Linked DNA regions of Homo sapiens: region 2 is linked to region 1. A link means that fine-mapping ties the variant in region 1 to the expression of a gene that starts in the linked region. Tissue or cell type: whole blood. Region 1 holds a variant in brackets; the other region holds the start of a gene. All regions are shown on one strand. Distances are between the middles of the regions.

Evidence for each region. PIP is the estimated chance that this variant, and not a neighbour inherited with it, causes the effect.
Region 2: SOX8 starts here. The variant in region 1 is fine-mapped to the expression of SOX8 in whole blood (TOPMed, PIP above 0.99).

Annotation. Positions count from the first base shown.
Region 1 is chr16:1,006,346-1,014,517 of GRCh38, forward strand. No RefSeq gene overlaps it. Among named protein-coding and RNA genes, the nearest start is that of SOX8, 29 kb to the left of the region's middle. RefSeq lists an enhancer at 3,638-4,257 and a silencer at 8,011-8,172. The variant C/T (reference allele first, on the strand shown) is at 4,015.
Region 2 is chr16:977,879-986,050 of GRCh38, forward strand. SOX8 (SRY-box transcription factor 8) reads left to right here and starts at 3,892. Exons shown (of 3, transcript NM_014587.5): 1 at 3,892-4,466; 2 at 5,850-6,082; 3 at 6,823-8,172. The coding sequence starts at 4,045. The coding sequence ends at 7,508. CEROX1 (cytoplasmic endogenous regulator of oxidative phosphorylation 1) reads right to left here and starts at 3,735. Exons shown (of 3, transcript NR_164343.1): 1 at 1,723-3,735; 2 at 1,147-1,232. It also overlaps a transcript of LMF1 not described here.

The sequences.
Region 1 (8,172 bases):
CTCCACTGTCCACCAGGAGCTGGGCCCCTGCCTCCCTCCCTATCAGGAATGGGGTGCAGGCGTTGGCCCAAGGGCATCACAAGGCCGATGGGACTTTAGAGAGAGCTGGGGCGGAGCTTCAGGGACTGGGCACGTGGGGTAGGATTTGGGTTATGAGAGGTGGACCCCTCCCCTGCGCCCACCACTCAGCCCCCAGCCCCCAGCACCAGGGGAGGGCTCTGTGCTGGGACAGCTGATGTGGGCTCTTGGGACTGAAGGGACACTGGGCCTTGGATGGGTCCTGGGACCGGTCCTGACCCTGCAGCATGTCAGCCGGTTCAGCCTCACATCCCTGCTCCCTCTGCGGCCACCTCCCAGATGGATCCCTGGAGCTGCGCAGGGGACCTGGCCACCCCACCTGCCCTGTCCACGGAAACCATCACCCAAGCTTGGAGCTGTGCAGGGGACCCGGCCACCCCGTCCCTCCTGTCCACAGAAACCATCACTCAAGCTTGGAGCTGCGCAGGGGACCCGGCCACCCCGTCTGTCCTGTCCACGGAAACCGTCACCCAAACTTGGAGCTGTGCAGGGGACCCGGCCACCCTGTCCGCCCTGTCCACGGAAACCGTCACCCAAACTTGGAGCTGTGCAGGGGATCCGGCCACCCCGTCTGTCCTGTCCGCGGAAACCGTCGCCTGAGCTTGCTCCACGTTCCAGACCGGGGCAGCGGGTTCCCCAAGGCTCCATGGCCGTGGGATGTGAGGGCCTGGAGCCTTCCCGGAGCAGGATGGAGGGGAGCAAGGCGGGAGGGGTGGCGGACAGCGAGTCCAGTGCCTTCTTCTAGATGGGGACAGGCTTTGGTGCTGGGGGACAGAGGGCTGGGCCCTGGGATCGTGGCAAGACAGGCCATGGTGGCCAGCCCGCTAAGTCATGTCTCAGGGAACATGGCAGGAGTCCTCGTGCCTCTTGGGAGCAGACCTGCAAAGGCATTTATTTAGGGCTCTGGGGTGCGGCCCAGGGAGGCTGGAGGAGGCATTTCCCAGGTGGCAGCTCCTGTTCTCTCCTCCCCGAACACCAGGCATGGCCAAGGGGGATCCTGGTGCCTCTCTGCTCCGGTGGGTGTGAGTCACCAGGGCACACAGGCGAGGCCATGGGTGGTGGCTGTGCCTCGGTCTGGCCAGACGGGTCATGTCTCCACCAGGCGCCTGGAATAGCTCTCTGGGGCATCCAGCTCAGGGAAAAGGGTGTGGGCGCCCTGCAGGACGGACGTGGCTGGAGCTGCAGCAGCCCTGCCAGGTAACTGGGACCCAGCCAAGGGTCACACTCTCTGGCCCAGAAGCCAGGAGCCGACCGTGCCCCATCCCTCCCTATTACAGCCCCGCATCCTTCTCCCACTCCTGCTCGGCTGTGCCGTGCCCTTGAGGGGAACCTGGCCAGCTTGGTGCCAAGTGCTGTCACTCCCAGCAGGCAGCGTCCTTCCCATGGCCCAGGAGGGGTGGGGGTTCCTGGGATGCTCCCACCTGGGACTCCAGACTCTAGCAGGGATCCCTGCTGTCTGAACCCCTGTGGCTGACCCCACGGCCCCTGGCCCCGTTTCCTGGTACACCCCATCTCTGTCCCTGGTGGAGCTCCAGCCCTTCATTCCCCTCTCCTCATCACCAAGTCCCCGGGCCCAGGCTTCCCGGTTGGGCAGTGGAAAGCCAGGACATCCTTGGAGGACCCAGGAAGCCCCTTCAAGGGGGACCGTGATGGCTGAGGCCCCAGGACCTCGCGGGGTGATGGATGGGGGTGGACGTTGGTGCCAACCAGGCAGTCTCCAAGCTGGGCCGAGTTTTGGAAATGACCTCGTCTTCCAACCTTCCGCTTCACAGACGGGGCACAGAGGGCAGGGACCTGGGGCCCGTGGGAGGGGATGGCCTCTGAGAGTCTCCAGCGAGGACCCACGGGGCGGTGGCCATGATGAGGGCACCTGCGTTTGTGTCTGGAGCTGCCATACGAAGCACCACCAACTAGGAGGCTCAGGACAACAGAGAGCCCCTCACAGCTCTGGAGGCCAGAGGACCCCTCACAGCTCTGGGGGCCAGAGGGCCAAAGTCCAGCGGCCAGCAGGGCTGGTTTCTCCTGAGACAGGGAGGATCCTCCTGGCCTCTGCCAGCACCTGCTGCTGCCCGTGCTCCCTGGCTGGCGGCCACATCGCTCTGCCTGCGTGTTCGTGGGTCCTCCTGTGAGCCTCTCCTCTCCTCCTTATACGGGCACTCGGGCTAAGACCCACTGACCCCATCCTGGAACCAGTTACACCTGCCATGACGCTGTTTCCAAATAAAGGCACGTCCTGAGGCTCTGTGGACGTGAGTCCTGGGGGACACTGTTCAACCCACTACAGTGCCCAGTTGTAGTTCAGGAAGTTGAGGTCCAGAGAGATGGGGGAGCCCCCAGACTCATCCACACCAGAGACCTGTCACAGATGGGGACCCCAGACACTGGAGAGAGTGATCTGGTTTTAGGGGGTCACCCAGGGAGCTGGAGAACACAGAGAGCTGGAAAGAAGTGGTCAGGGCTGCTGCCTCAGGTGGGCGTCTGCCAAGGAGACTGTGGAGATCTCAGGGGTGGTGAGAGGCTGAGGGTCCATGAACCAGGCCGGATGGCAAGCCAGAATCGGGCTTTGAGAGGTGGCTTTGGGCTGTGATTTAAATAAAGGAAGGGGCCAGGTGCAGTGGCTCATGCTTGTCATCCCAGCACTCTGGGAGGCCGAGGCGGGTGGATCATATTAGGTCATGAGTTTGAGACCAGCCTGGCCAACGTGGCAAAACCCTGTGTCTACTAAAAGTACAAAAATTAGCCGGGTGTAGTGGTGGGCGCCTGTAATCCCAGCACTTTGGGAGGCCAAAGCAAGTGGATCTCCTGAGGGCAGGAGTTCGAGACCTGCTTGGCCAACATGGTAAAACCCCATCTCTACTAAAAATACAAAAATTAGCCAGGCGTGGTGGTGGGCGCCTGTAATCCCAGCTACTCGGGAGGCTGAGGCAGGAGAATCGGTATAAATAAATAAATAAATAAAGGAAGGGAGCATTCGGGGGAATGAGTCAGGGAGACTCCAGGCCTGGAGGATGGGGCAGGGGCCAGCACACCGGGGTCTGTGAGCAGTGGGGAGGCAGCCAGGGCAGGCCCTGCACGCAGCAGGTGCTCAGAGGATGCTAGCAGGAAGCACGTTGCTGAGAGGAGGGCGAAGTGTCAGCGTGGGGCTGGCAGAGGGAGACGCCAGCGAGGCAGGGCTGGTTGGCCCAGGAGCTGCCCCGGTGCCAGGAATTTGGGTGGGCAGGAGCCCGAGAGCTCCCATCTGCACCCACCTGTCAATCCCAGGCAGCCCCAGGCTCTGGGGTGGAAAAAGAGAGGAGCAGGTTGTTCCCAAGGGAGGCAAAGTGCCTCCAGGAGGCCGGGCGACCACACAGCCTGCAAGTAGCGGGGAGCCCGGCCCCAGTGCTGGCGGAGGAGCAAGTGTGGGGGCTCTGGGGTGCGATGGGGCGCTCGGAGTCCCCAGGAAGGGGCATGGGGCACAGGGATCCTGAAACTCAGTGTGTGAGGGAGAGGGGAGACAGGTCTGGAGGAGCCAGGGACACCAGGAGGGGCTGGGCGTGGGAGCCCTTCTAGCCCAGCCAGCGACGAAGGCCCACAGGGACCTAGGAGAAGAGGAGGTACCCCTCGTGTGGGGCGGGGGCCGGGCCGGCCTTGCACGTTGATGATGCTTGCAAGTGGGCCTCTGGGGCCGAGCAGGGCCCCCCGAGCAGTGCAGAAGCTATGCGGGGACCTCTGCAGGGTCCTGGGCTGCCTCTGTGCCTCTCAGCTGAGTGGGGGATCCAACGCTCCCAGGCTACTGTGTCCACTGTGGATGGAGGGGTCCGGCCTGAGGGGAGTGTGGGGGGCGTGGTGGGGGGAAAAGGCCACCAGGAAGCGCTGCTCTGTGGCAAGGGCGGCAGGGAGGGGGACACAGCTGCACAGGTGGGGAGCCTGGTGTCTGGTCCCAGCCCGCTTCTGCTT[C/T]CTTACCCGGCAGCTGCCCAGGCACAGCCGCAGGGAAGCCAGGCTGCATTCACGGCATCTCCGGGAGAGACAGGGCCCCTTTCCGGCCCCCTGTTCAGCAAGTCCTCCCCATGGCTGGGGGAGGGGCCAGGCGTCGCAGCGACCCGTCTGTGATTGTGAACCCATAAAAGTGGCTGGTGGGAGGCCGGGCAGAGGCAGCGGCGGGCTCGGAGGGGCCCTGAAGGACATGCCCCGTGAAAGTGGAGGGCCCAGGCGGCCACACGGTGGTGACCCCATCGTGCAAAGTACTGCCCATTCCCAAGCGGAAGAATGTGTGGAAACGTGTGTGGCTGTGACACGGAACCCAGCGGCAGCCGCTGGGCAGGAGGGGCTGCAGCGTGTGGCCCCCGGGTGGCTCCAACCAAACGGGCCAAGCTGAGGCTGTTCCCACTCGGGGGCCGCCCACTGTGTGTCCACATGGCCGTGGCCCCATCCCGGGACAGGGCTGATCAGGTTGCCCTGCACTGTTGTGGCTTCGGTGTCTGTGGCAAAATGAGACCCCCACCTCTGAGAGACGTGTGGCAGGCGGGGCAGGCGGCCTCAGTCCTGTGAGTGCCTTGCCACAGGCTTTTGGCTTTGCTGGTCTCCAGGCACATGGAGAGACAGACGCTGGCTGAGTGCGTCCTAGGCTGGGTTCCAGGGTGGTCCCAGGAGCGCCGGCAGTGAGCAGTTCAGGGCTGTGGGTGCGGGGCTTGGTCCAGCAGGCAGGAGCAGCCCCGCCCGGGCAAGCCTCCCTGGAGGGAGACAGAGGAGACACAGGGCAGAGACGCAGGGCAGAGACATAGGGCAGAGACACAGCGCAGAGCGGCCAGGGCAGAGACGTAGGACAGAGACGCAGCGCAGAGCGGCCAGGGCAGAGATGCAGGGCAGAGACACAGCGTAGAGCGGCCAGGGCAGAGACGCAGGGCAGAGACGCAGGGCAGAGACACAGGGCAGAGACGCAGGGCAAAGCGGCAGGGCAGAGACGCAGGGCAAAGCGGCAGGGCAGAGACGCAGGGCAAAGCGGCAGGGCAGAGACGCAGGGCAAAGCGGCAGGGCAGAGACGCAGGGCAAAGCGGCAGGGCAGAGACGTAGGGCAGAGCGGCAGGGCAGAGACACAGGGCAGAGCGGCAGGGCAGAGATGCAGGGCAGAGCGGCCAGGGGCCCAGAAGCTGGAAGAGGCGGGAAGGACCCTCACCTGGGGCTTCCGGAGGGAGCACAGCTCTGCTCACACCTCGATTTTAGGCCTGTCTCCAGGCTGCGGGAGAGGACATCGCTGCAGTTTTCAGCTGTGCCATTGGTGGTACTCAGAGCCGGCATTCCCTTCCTGCAGCAGCTGGCCTCGGCGACCCTCACTCCACTATGGCAGGCGTCCCCTGCCTGTCTCCGCACCGTGCCTCAGCCCTGCTCTGGTCCCACAAGGGCTGCAGCTGCCCCGACTCTCCCAGGGCAGAGAGACAAACGGGGGAGCAGAAAGCAGAGTGACCGGGAATGTGCCTGGCGGTCAGGTGGAAGGCCACAGACCCCCGAGGAAGCAGACGTCGTGTGTGGCCTGCCTTGGCGTCCAGGAGACCATCTCCTCCGGTGGGGTCAGACCACAGAGGGGCCCTCTCTGTCTCTGCCCCTTTCCCTGGTGTGAGCAGGAGCACCCGGGCGACAGGGGCGCCTCTTCCTTGCTGCCCCACCCAGAGGGCAGCACACAGCTCAGTGCAGGAGGGACAGAGACCTTCAGGCCCGAATTACCTCCGGCCAACACTCAGCCTGCCCGCAGGACCTCGGGCCACCGTGGTCCTGTCCGCCCGATATTCTTCCAAGTCACCCTCAGCTTCGAGTCTACTTTGAAAGGAGACTCCCCATGGCAGGTTTGAGACACTGCCGGGGTCCCTTCCTGTGCACATTGGAAGAGACGTGGAGGCTCCGGCAGAACGATCTGAGCACCTGATTCCGCACTGGGGCCGCAGCGCGGGCTCCCTTTCAGGGCGTTGGGGGCCACGCTTTGCCCCTCTGTTTAGTAACACTCAGGGGACCCTGAAGGCAGGCAGGCAGGGTCCGCGGGATGGGGAGTCTCACAGCAGCCCACACCCCAGCATCTTGCTGGGAGGAGCTGGGGAGCTGGGTAAATCGGGGAAAATCCATCTCCAGGGCTCCCCTGAGGCTGTCCCCATTCCCAGGAAGGCAGGAATTACCCCACCCTCGGCCAGCCTCTGCCTGCCTTTCCCAAGATGATTCCAGAGCCCAGCAGCTCCTCTGGGACCCACATGGACTAGGCAGGCGGCTGGAGTGCTGTGGAGCACGGGGAAGGGCCATGAGAGCCTGGGACCCTCAGGCTCAGGACACCATCCTGGTGGCTGCTGATGGGGGTCAGCATTCTGCCCCTGCATCCTGCCCCTCTGCCCAGGGTCCGGAGGACTCACCGGGCTGTGCCCCCACCTGTGTGCCCTCCCCATGTCAAAGAGCAGGCGGGGGCGCCTGACAGGGTGAGGCCGAGGGTCCAACCCTCAGCCCCATACTGGCCGCAGGTGGTTCCTGAAACTTGTGGGACTGGAACCTCCTGTTGGCTGAGACCCCGGGGGGTGGTTGCAGAGGTGGGGCTGGTCTGGGAGTAAGCAGGGCAGGACACCTGCGGGGTTGCTTGGCCTCAGGTGGGCAGAGGCTGTTGGGGGCCTGGAGAGCCTGGTGTGACCTGGGGGCAGGCTGGGGTGGGGGATGAAACCCACAGGTGCCCCCAGTCAGATGCACACCCAGGACACACATGCGCACACGCAGGACACACGTGTGCACACCCAGGACACATGCGTGCACACCCAGGACACATGCACGCACACCCAGGACACGTGCACACACAGGACACACGTGTGTGCACCCAGGACACACGAGTGCACACATAGGACACACACGTGCACACCCAGGACACACGAGTGCACACCCAGGACACACCCGTGCACATGGAGGACACACCCATGCACACACAGGACACACATGTGCACACACAGGACACACACGTGTACCACTGTGCAGCCCTGCGCCCCCTCACTGCGTCCTGTTGCAGGCCTGTGTTGCTGTTCCATGTGCTGCCCTCTGCCTGCACGCAGGTGCCCATCGCCAGCGGGGCTGGGATCTTCCTGTGGTGCTCCTTGGCCCCTGCGTTCTGCCCGCCTAAGTGGCCCCTCCGGCTGGTCCTGAGCATCTGCTTGCTCAGCTCTGTCCTGGGCTGGGCTGGTGGCATTGAGGAGGAGCTGGCTGGGCGCTGGGTGAGGCAGGACCAACCCAGGACAGGTGTCCAGCTCTTGACAGGAGCTCCTGGCCCAGGCTGGTGGCTGGGGAGGGGCTGTAGCTGCCAGGGCTGGGAGCGCCTCCTCCACCTGCATCGGACCGTGCTCCGGAGGCCACGGTGCTGTGGAGGGTGGTGGCGGATCTTGGGCAGGCAGAGGCTGCCAGGGGGCCTGGGCGGGGCCTGGGGTGACCCAGGGGCAGGCCAGTGGGCTGTGGAGACTGGTGGTGCTCCAGAGGCCACAGTGCTCTGGGCTTAGAGCAGCTGCACCCGGAGGCATGCCCTGGACGTGGGTCCAACTCTGCGTCATGCAGCTGGGGGGCAATGGACGCGCCCCCCTTCCTGGCCTCGGTGTCCTCCCTGTAGCTGGGATGGCTGAGAGGAGAGGGGAGAGAGAATTGGTTTAGGGGACCTCGCCCAGGAAAGCTCATGATCCACTCTGTACCCACTACGGGGAGGGAGCCGAGTTGTGGGCCCAGGACACCCCTTCTGGCTGGGAGGAAACGGTGGAGGGGCCTGGAATTCCTCCAGGCCTGGGGGTTGCTGGGAGCCCTGATTTACGGCCCCAGCGCCTGCAGCCCCCCTCCTGCCCTGACAGTTCTCGTTGCAGCCTCCAGGTAGGAGGTGTTGGCGGGGCTGGGGCTGGGGTGGGTTTCCAGGTCCCCTCTGCCCATCCTAGGCTCAGTCCTGTGAGCTGAGTGGGTGAGCTGTGTCTGTGGGGCTGGGCTCTGTGTGTGGGCTTCTGAGGGGTGGCCCCGGGCCCCTGTGAGTCTCGGTCTTCCAGTCCGTGGAGTGGGGTGGACTTGTTCTCTGATGCTGGCCGAGGGGGCCTCCTACAGTGGGGGCTGTGGCCTCCATGGGTCCACCTG
Region 2 (8,172 bases), 28 kb before region 1:
CTGCACACATACACCACACACTAAACACACACACCACACACATACCACACACATACATCATACACACGCACACACACCACACACCATACACACACCCCACCACACACATACACGCACACACACACACCACACACACACATCATACACACGCACACCACACATCACACACACACAAACACACCCACACCCTGCACACATACACCACACCAAACACACACGGACACACACACACCACACACCATACACACACCACACCACACACATACATCATACACACACACACACACCACACACCATACACGCACCCCACACACATACATCACACACATCATACACATACACACCACACACCATACACACCATACGCACTATACACGCACCATACACACTATACACGCACCACACACACCATAAACACACCCCATACATACATCCCATACACATATCACACATTACATACCATACAAACACACACCACACACACACATGAACACACGCGCCTCCGGGGTCGCCATCCCTAGGAGCCACGGGTAGGGTGGGGTGGTCTCTCATCTGGAAGCATCCCCCAGGCCATCCCTGCACCATCTCATGGGCAGCAGAGCCTGTCCACCCACATTCTTCTCTGCGGCTGTCCTTGGCGCCCAGGCCAGGGCATGTGGAGCTACAAATGTCATCTACACCAGCTCTCCACGCCCGGCACTCACGGCCCAGGGGACAGCCCTGGTCCAGATTCCCCCATCAGGGTATACTTGAAACGTACACTCCCCCTGAAACTGCAAGGCCCACTAGCAGGTGGTGAGGTCAGGGTGGGTGGGGCCATGCAGACACGGCGGAGCAGGCCCCAGCTGAAGGGGTGGGGCAGGGATGGGAGACAGGGGAGGAGGGTGTGTGTGCAGCTCCCCCCTGGATGAAGACATGGGCCCATCAGGTGGACTCAGAGGTGGCTCTGATGGCTGCCCCTCCACTCTCCACCCCCGGGTCCATCTCTTGTCATCAGACACTCTGCTCTAGCTTCCCCAGGGAACACGCTGGCCTCTCCCTGCAGGAGATCAGAAGCTTCAGGGCTCAGCTTAAATGACACCAAAGATGCTTTCCCAGACCATCCTTCCTGAAGTCCCCGCCTCTGAGAGGTGCTTTTGGAGTTACCTGCTGCCTGCCTCCCTCCACAAGGCCAGCGTCTGCAGGGCAGGAGCTGTGAGGGTGGCCCGGCTCCATCCTGTGTGGGAAAGTGCCTGGCACACAGCAAGTGCTTAATTAATACCTGGTGACCCTCAAGCCATCCCGACACCTCCCTCTCTGAAAGCTCCGTCCCGGCGTCCTCTCAGGCCTAGTGGCTCACACCCGCGGAGGACGAGGTCATTTTCCTGGGGACTTCAAGGTGGACCAGAGATGACTCTGGAAGGGGGGTTTGTGGGCACCACTCTGCATGGGGATCCTCACCCACATACCGCCCTCCCGGGAGTGCACCAACACGTCCTCAGCTGACTGGCCTAGGCCCCCACCACCCCGCCACAGAGACTCCCCACCTCCCCACCCCTCCTGTGGCAGCCTGCACGCCCAGCACCTCCCCTGGTGATCACTGCAACCTGGGGAAAGGAGCAGGCGCTGTTGGAGCCTGAGGCAGGGTCTCAGTTGCACAGACCACCGTGCCCCAGAGTCAGGGCCTGGATGCCACTCCCCAACCTCAGTCTCCCTTCCTCCAGGGGTGCTGGAGTTCCCCACCTGTGTCCCAGGGACTTGAAGCTTCCTTGGTGGATGGGGAGCCAGGAAGAGGCCACCCTGCCTGCTCGCAGACCTAATGCAACTGCTTTTCTTTGGCAAAGAGAGCTCTCCACGGAGGTCCTCACCCGGATGGCACTGTGAGCCCGAGTGGGCGATGTCTGCTCTCCCAGGGGCAGGGGGTGGAAGGTGGCACAGTTTGGACCGGACCCCCACCCTCACTGCTTCCACTTAAACCCCCACTTCTGCCTGCCTGCATCCCAGGCCTAACAGATGAGTTCCGCGGGCGCCCCAGGCGATGCTCTGAGGGCCACGGAAGGATGCGGGGACCCCGAGCGGAGGGCAGGGCCTCCAGGGGGAAGAGGCACTGCAGACGGAGGTGTGGGTCTTCCCAGGCAGGTGCCGGAGCCAAGCGAGATGGTGGGACGGGGAAGAGAGGGCAGGCCAGGCTGGCAGCCAGCTCTCCACCTACGATGCGTGGAGCCTCCCAACTCGCGCACTCCGTCTCCCCACCGCTGCTTCCTCTGACCTGGCTGCAGAGATGAGACCGCCCTCCGGGCAGGTGACACGGCCCTTGCTCTTCAGCCTGGAGGCCAATGCTTCCTCCAAAGGCCCTGGCCCCCTCAGCTCCGGGCCTGGCTCCGGTTGTTCCCAATGCAAAGCAGCAAGGGCCCCGGGGTCTGCGGACGGGGGCGGGCGGCCGCTGGGGGCACCAGCTCTCGGCCGGGCCAGAACAGGGGGTAGGAGGCGCGTCCTGTGCGGTCGGTGGCGGCCCCAGGTGGGTGCGGTGCGCTGGCAGGAAGCGGCAGCACGACCCCCGACTTTGCATCTGGACTTTTCTAGTAACGGACCAGCTCCTTCTGCCGACCGGGCCGGGGAGACCGCGTGGCTCAGTGGCTGCAGCGGCCACCGGCCCGGGCGTGGGGGCTTTGAGGGCACCGGCGCGGTAGGTCACCCGGGTTTCGCGGGCCGCAAGCTCGGAGACGCGCGTGTCCCGCGTTGGCTGCCTGACCCGGAATGGCGCAGCCCCTTCGCCTCCAGCGCGCTGGTTGAAAGGATCCGAGCCACCCTCGGGGACGGCCGGGCCGAGGCCACCTCGCGGGGCGGCCTTGGGCGGGGACCCGGACCCGCGGTTGGACGTTCGCCTCGGGGGGGGCAATGTCCCCTCTCCGACCCCGCGGTCCCCACCAGGGCGGCACACCCCGCCCTCTCCCCGCCTCCGCAGGCGCCCAGGGCTCACAGGCTCGGAGCGGCCTCCGCCTCTGCCGGACCACCCAGGGCCGCCCCGCCGGAGGGGCCTCCCCGCCCCCGAGCCCTAGGTCACGCCCGGAAGGCCCGGGGCCCCCGCGTCCGGCCACGCCATCCGCCCGGCGGCCCCAGGGACTCAGCGCCGGGGTCAGCGCAGGCCCCGCCCAGCGCTCCCGCCCCCTCCAGCTGGCCGGCCCCCGGGACCGCGCCCCCGCCCGCGCTCTCCACGCTCGCACTCGTATGGGCAGGGCGGCCCGGGGTCCCCCAGCTCCGAGCCGCGGCCCCTTGAAGCGCGTTACCTGGACGTGCGCTGTCCGCAGACTCTGGACGAGCTGGGCCTGGGCGCTGCGCGGCGGAACCGACCCTGTCCTGGACCGCAGGCAGCAGCTGACCCCGCGCCACCGGCCTGCGGGCGAGACCTCAGGCGCGAGACGGGCTGTGTGTGTGTGTGTGTGTGTGAGAGAGAGAGAGAGAGAGAGAGAGAGAGAGAGAGAGAGAGAGAGTGTGTGTGTGTGTGTGTGTGTGTGTGTGTGTGTGTGTGTGTGTCGGGGGAGGGGCCCGAGGACCCGCTTCCTAGCTGAGCGTCAGGACGGGGGGCGGACTCTCAGGAGCCGCGCGGCGCCCGCAGAGGAGAGGAAGCGCCGGAGACCCCCCTGCTCCCACCCGGCCTCCCTGCCCCGCTTCCTTTCCCGGGGCTCCAGAGAGGGGAGCTCCAGGCGTGGGGCGCCTGGCCCACGTGGTGCGGCGCCGGGCGGGGCAGGCGGGGGCGCGGCGAGAGCCGCGGAGCTTTCTTTATGGGTGGGGGGGCGGGGGCGGCCGGGCTCCGCCTCCGGGGGATCGGGGCGCGCTCCGCCAATGGGTAGCCGGGCGCGGGGCGGGGCCGCGGGGCCGCCGCTTAAAGAAACTTGTTGCGGGTCCCGCAGCGGGACCCGAGCCTCGGCGGCGGCGGCGGCGGCGGCAGGGGCGAGGGTCGGGGCCACCGCGCGGCGACCTCGGGTCCCGGAGCGACCGCAGGGCAGCCCCGGGCGCCGGCCCCGGTGCGCGTCTCCTGTGCGCGCCCCTCCGCGCGCGGCCCCGATGCTGGACATGAGCGAGGCCCGCTCCCAGCCGCCCTGCAGCCCGTCCGGCACCGCCAGCTCCATGTCGCACGTGGAGGACTCGGACTCGGACGCGCCGCCGTCTCCCGCCGGCTCCGAGGGCCTGGGCCGCGCGGGGGTCGCGGTGGGGGGCGCCCGGGGCGACCCGGCGGAGGCGGCGGACGAGCGCTTCCCGGCCTGCATCCGCGACGCCGTGTCGCAGGTGCTCAAGGGCTACGACTGGAGTCTGGTGCCCATGCCGGTGCGCGGCGGCGGCGGCGGCGCGCTCAAAGCCAAGCCGCATGTGAAGCGGCCCATGAACGCATTCATGGTGTGGGCGCAGGCGGCGCGCCGCAAGCTGGCCGACCAGTACCCGCACCTGCACAACGCCGAGCTCAGCAAGACGCTGGGCAAGCTGTGGCGGTGAGTGCCGGCGCCCCGGGGGCGGGGTTCGGGACCTTGGCCGCCCCTGGTCTCGGACTGCGAGCGGGGGCCTGGAGGGCGCAGAGCTCGCGGAGGTGGTGGCCACACGCAGGCTCCGGGCTCTGCACCCCGGGCGGGTGTCAGGGCGGGTCCCAGTGGAAAAACATCCTCTGGCCAGCCGGGGTCCGGCGCCAGCTATGGGAGTCGGGATCCGCGGAGGGCAGCGCCTGGGGTGTGCACCCTCGTGGCGGGTGCGCTCTGGAGCCAGTTCTCCTGGCGGGGAACACCCTGCGGAGGGCCATGGCTGGCACCCCGACGTGCCCTCCAGCCGTTGCGAGTGGCCCCAGCCCCGGGAGGCACGCCCGGCACGACAGCAAGTTGCATGCGGCTCTCTGGAGGTGCTCCCTCCTTAGAAAGGGCTCAGCTCCTCTAGCTCCTGGACCACCCATGGGGAGGGAGTGCGGCAGGCGGATGGGTGGGCAGCAGGTTTGCCTGCGAGTACCCTCCCCGCAGTTTCTCCCTCTCCTGGACACCCTCGGTCCGAAGCAGGGAGGGCAGGAGTGGAGATGACGGGGTGCGCCGTGTGCACGCCTTGGCGTGGTGGGGCCGGTCAGTTTTCCAGAAATTAGGACTGCAGAGTGAAGAACTTGTTGCTCAGGACAGGCCGCCCCCACCGAGTGTCCTCTGGTTGGGTTTCAAATGGTTCTCTTGGTTTGGGGCTCTGGTTCCCGTATCCTGCTCCTCACCTGGAAGAAGGGAGCTTGGAGCTTGCGTATTTGCACCTCCTGCCTTCTGTCTGGATCTAGGGCGCAGCCACGGGGCGCTGTGGACGGCAGGCCCCTGCTCCCCCAAGTCCTGCCGCACAGGCGGTTGGAGGTGAGCCTCGGGAAGAGTCCCAAGGAGTGTGTCCTGTGGCTCAGTGAGGACGGGCGCCTGGGCCCTGCCAGGGCTTCTGGGTGTCTGGGAATGGAGGGACAGCAGCCCAGCTGCCCGCCGAAGGCCGGCACCGTTCCCGGGAAGCCTCGCTTTTGTCCACCGCCGGCTGGGTCCTGCCCGCCTCCCCCGCCTCCCTTAGAAAGCCCCAGAGGGAGGGAACAGCAGGCCCGGAATAGGGGGAAATAGAAGGAGGAAGATGGGAGGCGTGGGGCTTGTTCTTCTTTGGCTGTCGTAAGCATACCAACCTTCCCAAACAGGCGCCGGCCGGTTCTCCCAGAGGAGTGTACTGCCTGGTGCCACGGGAGGCTCCGGAGCGCACGGCAGGCGGGTTTCCCTGGTCAGAGCCTCCTGGCCCCGGCCTCTGCTGCCGGTTCCCCCTGTGGTGTGTGCCTGCGCCGAGGGCACAGTGGGCGCCCTGGCCATCCCTGCCTCTGCCCTGTGCTGCAGCTTGCTGAGCGAGAGCGAGAAGCGGCCCTTCGTGGAGGAGGCAGAGCGCCTTCGCGTGCAGCACAAGAAGGACCACCCCGACTACAAGTACCAGCCACGGCGCAGGAAGAGCGCCAAAGCCGGCCACAGCGACTCCGACTCGGGCGCGGAGCTGGGACCCCACCCTGGCGGCGGTGCCGTGTACAAGGCTGAAGCAGGGCTTGGAGATGGGCACCACCATGGCGACCACACAGGTGGGCTCCAGGCCCCCCGCATATCTGAGGGTCCCTGTATGGGAGGCAGCTGTGGGGTTTCTGGCTGAGAAGGGTGCATGATGGTGGAGGGGGGCAGGCGCCCTCGAGAGAACCGGGCCTTCCCCGGGTTCCCTGAAAAAGCTCCCAAGGCCCCGGCCGCCCCTGTTTTTGGTGCACGAGGGACCTGCTTAGCCACCTTGAGTGCTGAGGGGCTGACAGCTTTGCTTGGCAGGGACCCCGAGAGGTGGTGTTTTCAGCAAGACTCAGTCCAATGCGGGCTCCTCTTCCCACACCGAGCTGCTGCCCACACGGCACTCAGCAGCCCCAGCTTCAGGGCCAGACTGACAGGGTGGAGTCCTGCCGGGGCCTCGGTCAGGCTGGCTGACGCCCGCCAGCCTCAGAGTGCTTGGCTGGCCCGGGGAGGAACAGGGTCTGTGTGGTCCCCCAGCGCCCTGTAAACCCCAGCTCTGGCCAGGCTGGGCCTGTCGGCTTCTTCCCCCCACCTTGGTCTCTGGGAGGGGCCTCGGGTCTTCTCATAGCACAGCGCTTCATGGAATTTTCTCGGCCGAGGAGTGAGGTCTAGGTCTGACTTTGCTGGAATTTCTGGGAAATGTAAAGAAACAAAAAGCCGTTGATCCCCCTGGCAGTTAGCGCGGGCGTCCCTCCCCTTCCAGCCTGGCCGGCCCCACCCGCCCCACAGAAGGGGCATTCATCCCTGAAGCCTGCTCTCCTGTCCCCAGGGCAGACCCACGGGCCGCCCACCCCGCCCACCACCCCCAAGACGGAGCTGCAGCAGGCGGGCGCCAAGCCGGAGCTGAAGCTGGAGGGACGCCGGCCGGTGGACAGCGGGCGCCAGAACATCGACTTCAGCAACGTGGACATCTCGGAGCTCAGCAGCGAGGTCATGGGCACCATGGACGCCTTCGACGTCCACGAGTTCGACCAGTACCTGCCCCTGGGCGGCCCCGCCCCACCCGAGCCGGGCCAGGCCTATGGGGGCGCCTACTTCCACGCCGGGGCGTCCCCCGTGTGGGCCCACAAGAGTGCCCCGTCGGCCTCCGCGTCGCCCACCGAGACGGGTCCCCCACGGCCGCACATCAAGACGGAGCAGCCGAGCCCCGGCCACTACGGCGACCAGCCCCGAGGCTCGCCCGACTACGGTTCCTGCAGCGGCCAGTCCAGCGCCACCCCGGCCGCCCCCGCCGGCCCCTTCGCCGGCTCACAGGGCGACTATGGCGACCTGCAGGCCTCCAGCTACTATGGTGCCTACCCTGGCTACGCACCCGGCCTCTACCAGTACCCCTGCTTCCACTCGCCGCGCCGGCCCTACGCCTCACCCCTGCTCAACGGCCTGGCCCTGCCGCCCGCCCACAGCCCCACCAGTCACTGGGACCAGCCGGTGTACACCACCCTGACCAGGCCCTGAGGGCCCAGCCGCGGGGAGGGACTCGCAGGCGTCAGGGGGCAGCCTTGTCCCGGCCCAGTGTGTGTGACCAGGGCGGGAGGGGCCCCAGTGGCTGAGCTCCAAGTGCCTGCTGAAGTCTGCAGGGAAACACGCTTGCTGCCCGTGGCCCTCGGCCTCCAGATGGCCACACCTCTGCCGACGACGGACCAGCTCCCTCTCCCTTCTATCTTTCTTTTTGAGGTGGTGGGATTATTCCACAAAGAAGGGCTGCCGTTTGGTCCCTCTTCCGTGAGGACTGGCGGCACCAGCACCTTCGCTTTGCATCTCGGTAGAGGAGAAACGGCAGCACAGCCCAAGGACCAAAGGAGGGGGTGGCAGGGGCCTTGCAGGGCGCTGTGAGGTCCAGGCCGGTCTTGGCGCCGAGAGCCCCTGCACTCAAGGCCACATTCCCTCGACAACGGCTGCACGGGCTGTCCGGGATCCGGGGTGTCTGTCCGCAGACTGGGATGAGTCTACTCGAGCATCTCCGGGACCTGCCTGTCAGATCTGAGGTGTCTCCTTGCTGGCAGAGTGCGCTCACGCGAGGGCTGGCTGTGATGAACACATCTCTCTTTTATTTTTATGTTTTTGATAATTTTTATTTTTGAAGCTTAAATGTGTTTCTTCTGAAAGCTGTTAAAGATGT